2 linked regions of the Homo sapiens genome follow. The gene in region 1 interacts genetically with each later gene. Each region holds a gene or a part of one and is shown on either strand. Other genes may lie near its edges. The genes, in order: SEMA4C and ARID1A.

Evidence for each region.
Region 2: changes in SEMA4C (region 1) and ARID1A together harm fitness more than expected from each alone (negative genetic interaction), as found in Homo sapiens cells (one large-scale study listed by BioGRID).

Annotation. Positions count from the first base shown.
Region 1 is NC_000002.12:96,863,340-96,867,149, reverse strand, and holds part of SEMA4C (semaphorin-4C precursor), read left to right. Parts: intron 1-718; coding exon 719-867; intron 868-1,220; coding exon 1,221-1,283; intron 1,284-1,385; coding exon 1,386-1,484; intron 1,485-1,612; coding exon 1,613-1,709; intron 1,710-1,829; coding exon 1,830-1,946; intron 1,947-2,034; coding exon 2,035-2,186; intron 2,187-2,269; coding exon 2,270-2,445; intron 2,446-2,767; coding exon 2,768-2,912; intron 2,913-3,001; coding exon 3,002-3,224; intron 3,225-3,355; coding exon 3,356-3,468; intron 3,469-3,747; coding exon of another isoform or gene 3,748-3,792; exon of another isoform or gene 3,793-3,810.
Region 2 is NC_000001.11:26,765,503-26,769,312, forward strand, and holds part of ARID1A (AT-rich interactive domain-containing protein 1A), read left to right. Parts: intron 1-718; coding exon 719-864; intron 865-954; coding exon 955-1,064; intron 1,065-2,287; coding exon 2,288-2,497; intron 2,498-3,810. UniProt on the Homo sapiens protein: Involved in transcriptional activation and repression of select genes by chromatin remodeling (alteration of DNA-nucleosome topology).

The sequences.
Region 1 (3,810 bases):
GGGGGGACCCTGAGGACAGGTCGGCAGCCATATTTGGCAGCTGATGTAGGAATCACGTGACTGTATAAATGTCGTAGTGCCCTGCATGCCGGGTGGCAGCAAGACTTCCCAGGCCCCAGCCCCATCTCCGCTCTCTGAGCCTCTGGTTTCTCCGGACCTCCCTGGCCTGGCTCACAGCCCAGCTCCCCTCCTGCCATCCCCACCTGTCCTAGTGGCCTGCTGTGCTCGCATCTCTGGCAGCCTGGATTGGGGTCCTGCTGGAGTGAAGGGTTTCCTGAGGCAGGGAGTACTCATAGCCGTCTGTGCCTCCTGCTCTGCTGGACTCTGATAGAGGCAGTGGGCAGCAGGGCAAAGAAGGAAGCAGCCGCCGAGGAAGCGAAGGTGGGGTGGGGGTGCCCAGCCCTGCGGCCGGAGGTGCCATTGACCCTGAGAGCAAGAGCCATCAGTCTGATGGCTTCCTCTGGCCGGAAGCTGTGGCTGAGATATCCTTCCTTCCTCCCAGCAGCCTGGATTTGCCTCCTCCCAGGCTGGGAAAGGCTAGGGAGGCCCAGGTGGGGCTGTCAGGGCCAAAGGCTGTTTCAAAAGTGTCCTTTATTGCCAATCAGGGGGTTTGGCTGGCATCTGCTTGTGGCATGGGGTGCTGGCTCTCGTGGAGCAAGACTGAGGGCTGTCGAGCCCCAGGGGTCCTGCCCATCAGCAGCCATGCTTACCCCTGCAGAGCTGGCCACGGTAGTACGGCGGTTCTCCCAGACCGGCATCCAGGACTTCCTGACACTGACGCTGACGGAGCCCACTGGGCTTCTGTACGTGGGCGCCCGAGAGGCCCTGTTTGCCTTCAGCATGGAGGCCCTGGAGCTGCAAGGAGCGGTGAGAGGTGGGGCAGTGGGAGGCAGTCGGGCCTGCCAGAGGGCAAGGCCCAGAGGGGCTGTGCTTGGCTAGGTGGTCCCTCAGCCTGGCTGCCCCCACAGAAGTGCTGCTGGGCATCCGGGGCCTGCCCTCTGGTTGGGGTCAGCATGCGGCATTCCTCTCCTCTCTGGCACTTACTGAATTCTGTGTAGTGGGGTGGTTTGGGGCTTCCATTCTGTACTAAAGGAAGTCCCCAGAGAATAGGGACCATGCCTCTGCACTGGGCGTCCCTGTGTTGCTGCTGCAGGCTGTGCTTGTGACACGTGCTCAGTCCGTACCTGTAACGTGGCTGACATCCCCTTCCCTTTCCCCAGATCTCCTGGGAGGCCCCCGTGGAGAAGAAGACTGAGTGTATCCAGAAAGGGAAGAACAACCAGGTGGGTGCTTGGACGCTGCTCCTGGTGCTGCCTTCACCCCAGGACGTCTCCTCCCATTCTGGCCCTCGCGCTCTCACTAACCGGACACCTTTCTGCCCCCAGACCGAGTGCTTCAACTTCATCCGCTTCCTGCAGCCCTACAATGCCTCCCACCTGTACGTCTGTGGCACCTACGCCTTCCAGCCCAAGTGCACCTACGTCGTGAGTGCTGCCCTCCTACCTCGGTGTCCCCAGCCCCCCGCCCTCCTCACCCTTCTCTGGACTCGTGGATGTGGCCCACAGAGCCCTGCCCTTAAGCATCTCCTCATCACCTCTCTCTCTGTCCTTAGAACATGCTCACCTTCACTTTGGAGCATGGAGAGTTTGAAGATGGGAAGGGCAAGTGTCCCTATGACCCAGCTAAGGGCCATGCTGGCCTTCTTGTGGGTGAGTGGCTGCCCCCCATGCAGGCTGGGTGAGTCCTTGGGGCTTGGTTCCACTTGGGTCTGTGTTGGCCGGATGTGTCCATACCTCATGTGTGGCCTAGCTGACCTCTGTCTCCCATAGATGGTGAGCTGTACTCGGCCACACTCAACAACTTCCTGGGCACGGAACCCATTATCCTGCGTAACATGGGGCCCCACCACTCCATGAAGACAGAGTACCTGGCCTTTTGGCTCAACGGTGAGCCACCGGGGGGCCTGTGGGAGCCATGGGTGGGAGGTCCCCCGGGGCCCAGCCCCTCCCTGCTGACCTCCTCCCCTTCCCACAGAACCTCACTTTGTAGGCTCTGCCTATGTACCTGAGAGTGTGGGCAGCTTCACGGGGGACGACGACAAGGTCTACTTCTTCTTCAGGGAGCGGGCAGTGGAGTCCGACTGCTATGCCGAGCAGGTGGTGGCTCGTGTGGCCCGTGTCTGCAAGGTACCGAGTCTCACAGCGGTGGGCCCTGGGAGCCCTGCTGGCCCAGCGGGGCTGACCGGCAGTGTCCCCTTGCCGTCTGCCAGGGCGATATGGGGGGCGCACGGACCCTGCAGAGGAAGTGGACCACGTTCCTGAAGGCGCGGCTGGCATGCTCTGCCCCGAACTGGCAGCTCTACTTCAACCAGCTGCAGGCGATGCACACCCTGCAGGACACCTCCTGGCACAACACCACCTTCTTTGGGGTTTTTCAAGCACAGTGGTGAGTTGGCCAGGGCTCCCACAGAGTGGGGAGGAGCTGGGGTTCAGGTCAGGGACGGTGCATGGGTGGGAGCCTGGACCAGGCCTCAGAGGCAGTCCCGGAAGCCAGGTGTCCAGAAGCCAAGGAGAATGCTGGCACCTGCCCCTTTCAGAGCTGCCTGTGAAGGGGCAGGGCCCCATGCCAGGTGGCACTTGAGCTGCCAGGGCATTCTGGTACCCATGGCCAGTTTGTGCCAGGCCCTGCCTTCCTGCTGCTTGCCCTTAGCTGGGGTGGGAAGAGATAAGGTGGGTACCTGACCCTGGGCTCCCTCTCGCTGTGACAGGGGTGACATGTACCTGTCGGCCATCTGTGAGTACCAGTTGGAAGAGATCCAGCGGGTGTTTGAGGGCCCCTATAAGGAGTACCATGAGGAAGCCCAGAAGTGGGACCGCTACACTGACCCTGTACCCAGCCCTCGGCCTGGCTCGGTGAGTGCTAGGGCAGGGATGCATCTCCCCACCCAGCTGCGGTGCCATCCCACCCTGCTGATGGCCTGCCCCCCACACCCTGCCCCCAGTGCATTAACAACTGGCATCGGCGCCACGGCTACACCAGCTCCCTGGAGCTACCCGACAACATCCTCAACTTCGTCAAGAAGCACCCGCTGATGGAGGAGCAGGTGGGGCCTCGGTGGAGCCGCCCCCTGCTCGTGAAGAAGGGCACCAACTTCACCCACCTGGTGGCCGACCGGGTTACAGGACTTGATGGAGCCACCTATACAGTGCTGTTCATTGGCACAGGTGGGTGCATGGGTATGCAGGCATGGCTGCTCAAGGCTGGGCAGAAGCCCGTGTGCCCAGGGCAGGGAGATTTGGAGCTGCCCCACGGCCTTGTGCCCTCTCATTTACACCTTCTCCTCTGCACCCCCCAGGAGACGGCTGGCTGCTCAAGGCTGTGAGCCTGGGGCCCTGGGTTCACCTGATTGAGGAGCTGCAGCTGTTTGACCAGGAGCCCATGAGAAGCCTGGTGCTATCTCAGAGCAAGGTAGTAAGTTGGGCCCTATCTGCCACTGTCCCCAGCACTATCCCATCTCACTCTCTCCATCTGGCTGCTTCTCCCAGTTGGGCCTATGTGCTTGGCCAGTGCAGAGTTAGGAACACACACACATGTGGATGCACACCTTGCCTAACTTGGGGTGGGTTCCTGGAAACGAGAATGAAAACAGAATGGAATCTGCACTGCACAGGGCCATTATATATAGCCAGGTCACGGGGCTGCGCTCCCAGCATCAAGCCTTGGCAACTGCTCCCATGTTTCTTTCAGACCCTCCAAGCTGTGCTGTGGTTCTGGCTCTGGCCTCTTCCCTGACCATGCCCCTGTGACCAG
Region 2 (3,810 bases), on another chromosome or scaffold:
TGAACTATTGTTTGCTATCTAGAGCTTGAACTCTCTTAGTATCTTTCGTGGGAGGTAGAAGATAAGAAAATCTGGGTGTTGGCCGGGCTCGGTGGCTCATGCCTGTAATTCCAGCATTTTGGGAAGCCGAGGCAGGTGGATCACCTGAAGTCAGGAGTTCGAGACCAGCCTGACCAACATGGAGAAAGCCCATCTCTACTAAAAATACAACATTAGCCGGGTGTGGTGGTACATGCCTGTAATCCCAGCTATTTGGGAGGCTGAGAAAGGAGAATTGCTTGAACCTGGGAGGCTGAGATTGCAGTGAGCCGAGATTTCACCATTGCACTCCAGCCTGGGCAACAAGAGTGAAACTCTGTCTCAAAAAAAAAAAAAAGAAAATCTGGGTGTTAGCTGGACATGGTGGTGCATGCCTCATAGTCTTAGGCACTCAGGAGGCTGAGGAAGGCAGATTGTTTGAGCTCAGGAGATTAAGGCTGCAGTAAGCTATGATCACACCACTGCATTCCAGCCAGGGTGCCAGAGCAATACCCTGTCTCAAGAAAATAAATTAAAGAAAAATAATATCTGGATGTTGCATAGTTCTAGTTTTGGGGACCCATAAATGTTTTCCTTTTAATCCTTACTAGATGATCACACAGCACTATTTGGCTCCAGTTCAAATCTAAAAGCTCAGAGTCTAACCTTTGTCTCTCTCACTTTCCATCTTCTTCCTTAGGCCGCCAGGCTACCCCAATATGAATCAAGGGGGCATGATGGGAACTGGACCTCCTTATGGACAAGGGATTAATAGTATGGCTGGCATGATCAACCCTCAGGGACCCCCATATTCCATGGGTGGAACCATGGCCAACAATTCTGCAGGTAAGTGCTAGTCATTCTCACTAGGGATTTCTTCAAGAGTCACATCACAGCTAAACTTACTGGACTTGAGAATTTTTTTCTCTTTTACAGGGATGGCAGCCAGCCCAGAGATGATGGGCCTTGGGGATGTAAAGTTAACTCCAGCCACCAAAATGAACAACAAGGCAGATGGGACACCCAAGACAGAATCCAAATCCAAGGTAGTGATTTTTGTCTTGACTCCTTTCAACTTTGTGTCCTATCTTTTTCAGTGATAGGAAGGAAAAAGAAAAGAGAGTGACAAGATCCCAGCCTTTTATGACACCGGACTAGATAGTCTCTGAAAAAGCTGCTGTTGCCTCCTCTTATCATGAAAGGTCCCAGAATAATAGCTCAGTGAGTTGGGTCTGGGTTGGTCTAAGGGATCCTGGTAAATAACATAATATTCTCACAGCTGTTTGTTATGGGGGAAATGCCAGACACTGCAGCATCAAACTCTCTGTACTGTTTGGCTGGTGCCCTCTGTGAAACCGTGCCTCCTATACTCAAGCATTGATAGATGGGGTGTGCCATGGGCAACTAGTTGCTCTTCTCTTCCTGAACCTTACTCATAGCAGCAGGAATGGTACCCTGTGTTCTGTAAAGAAGGAGATAAGGCAGATGAGGCTTGAGTCCTTGGCTTCCCTTAGGTTGGTCCTGGGTGTACTGTTAGGCTGTGCGGTAGTAAAGGGTCCTACTCAGCATTTGGGTCATTTGTAATATTTCTGTCCTTGGCCATACCTCACTTTCCCTATCTGTATACATAGGGAAAATAAAAATCATAGCTGTTAATTCCTGTGAGTCTTCACCTCTGGCTCCCAGCCCTTTTGACCACGTTCCTGTCTTGTACAGGATAATATCCAAAGCCCTTCAACCAGGTGGGAAACCTTTCCTTTGTTTAGAAGAGGCAAAGAGTTTCTTTTCATTTTAGTCCATCCCATTGCCTCAAGATCATGTTGTGAGTTTTTCGATTTCTCTAAAACATAGTACCTAAGTATGTTCAGGCTCCTGGGTAGTAGTGTGGGAGCAGTAGTGGCTTTGATGTCAGGTGGACAAGGATTTGATACTCAGCCTGCCACTTAAAAGCTGTGAGATCTTAGGCTTTGCCTCCTGGTGCCTGCTTCCTTATCTTTACAAATGGGGATAATTTTATAATACCTAATATATAAAGGCATCTAGCACAGCACCCAGTACATAACATATATTTAGTGTTAGCTTCCTTCCTTTATAGGAAAAAAAAATTTGGTTCTCTTTTGGCCCTTCAACCTTATGAAGGTAGGACAGGTGTTAGTAACCACCCCAGAGTAAGAAGCTTTAACACTGCTCCAGTCAAGAGACTTCTGAGACCCTTAGCACAGGCTTTGAATCTGACCCATTCCTATGAATTTTGACCTGAACCTTCCAGAAATCCAGTTCTTCTACTACAACCAATGAGAAGATCACCAAGTTGTATGAGCTGGGTGGTGAGCCTGAGAGGAAGATGTGGGTGGACCGTTATCTGGCCTTCACTGAGGAGAAGGCCATGGGCATGACAAATCTGCCTGCTGTGGGTAGGAAACCTCTGGACCTCTATCGCCTCTATGTGTCTGTGAAGGAGATTGGTGGATTGACTCAGGTGAGTGGGCGCCTGACACTTGACTGCCCCTGTGGTTTCCACAAACCCCTTTCTAGGTACTCACTGGCTTCATGTGGTACCATGCATCCCACAGGGACATCATCCCCTCTCCCGCTTTCTGAGTCTAATATTGATAGACCGGGGAGCACAGGTTTCCCAGAAGATAAGGCAGGAAGCAGAGACCTCCCTGGTAGTATGAGGTATTAGCAGTAAGTTTACCGTGTATCTATGGTCCCACTGAGGTGTAAAGCTAGGGAAAGTCTGTGGGCATTCTGATTCCATGGGAGGCAATTTGGCATAGTAGCAAAGACAGGATTTGGAGAGATGGACCTGGTTTTGAATCCCTTCTTGGCCACTTATAACATATATGACCTTAAGGTGTGTAACCACTCTGAACCTTAATTTCATTATTTGTAAAATACAAACAGTATGTAACAGTATATAACCCACTAGACTGTCAAAAGTTAGAAATAACTTTGGCTTTCAGCAAGGTTTCTGCCACATAAATCGGCCTGCAAGATGGTACAGAGGCAGCCAGAGTAGAAGTAGATCTTCCCATTCCTGGAAGCTTCCCAGTAGAGATAGGATTTCAGGAACTGCTTAGTAGAAATAGTTTATAATAAAGGAAGAAGTAGTAGGAAATTATGTGTTTAGTTATTCTGTATGGGAAACTTAAATGAAAACCTGAATTGGACACCACCCAGAGCTTGTGCCTACTCTGATACCTTACAATTTTGTAGACTCAGCCCAGGAAGCAAACAGGTGAGGCAGCACAGACAGACAGCAGACTGTGCCTTGCAGACTTCCCTCCTGTGTATGTTCTGTAGTCACCAGACCAGAAGCCTGCTGTTGGATCAGTTTGTGGCTGAGCTCGGGGAGGTGTGGCAGGGAGGGATTTATTCCAAACCTTCTAAATCAGAAGAGGAAAACAGCTGTCACCAGCAGAAAAGAAAGTGGTTGGAATGAAGCCAGCCAACAGTCAGTTATGAATTCCTTCTCCCTTCAGGCTTTATTCCCCTCCCCCACAAAGGAAAACAAAACAAAATAAGACACGTGCATACTGCCACATAACTGGCATGAGAAGCAAAGCCACGGAAGGCTTTTGAGGTGACTCCATGCATATTCCTGCCATTCTCCCTGATACTCAGATCTCATAGTCAAGCCTTCCCTGTCTATAGGGAAAGGGAGCATTGGGTTAGGTTTCGCTCACTTCTGATTGGGTGGGCTTCAGGGTTCACTGAACCTAGGATGAGGTACAGAGAGAATTCTAATGCCTGAGCCTGTCTTCCAGATTGGAAAAGGATGCAAACCTT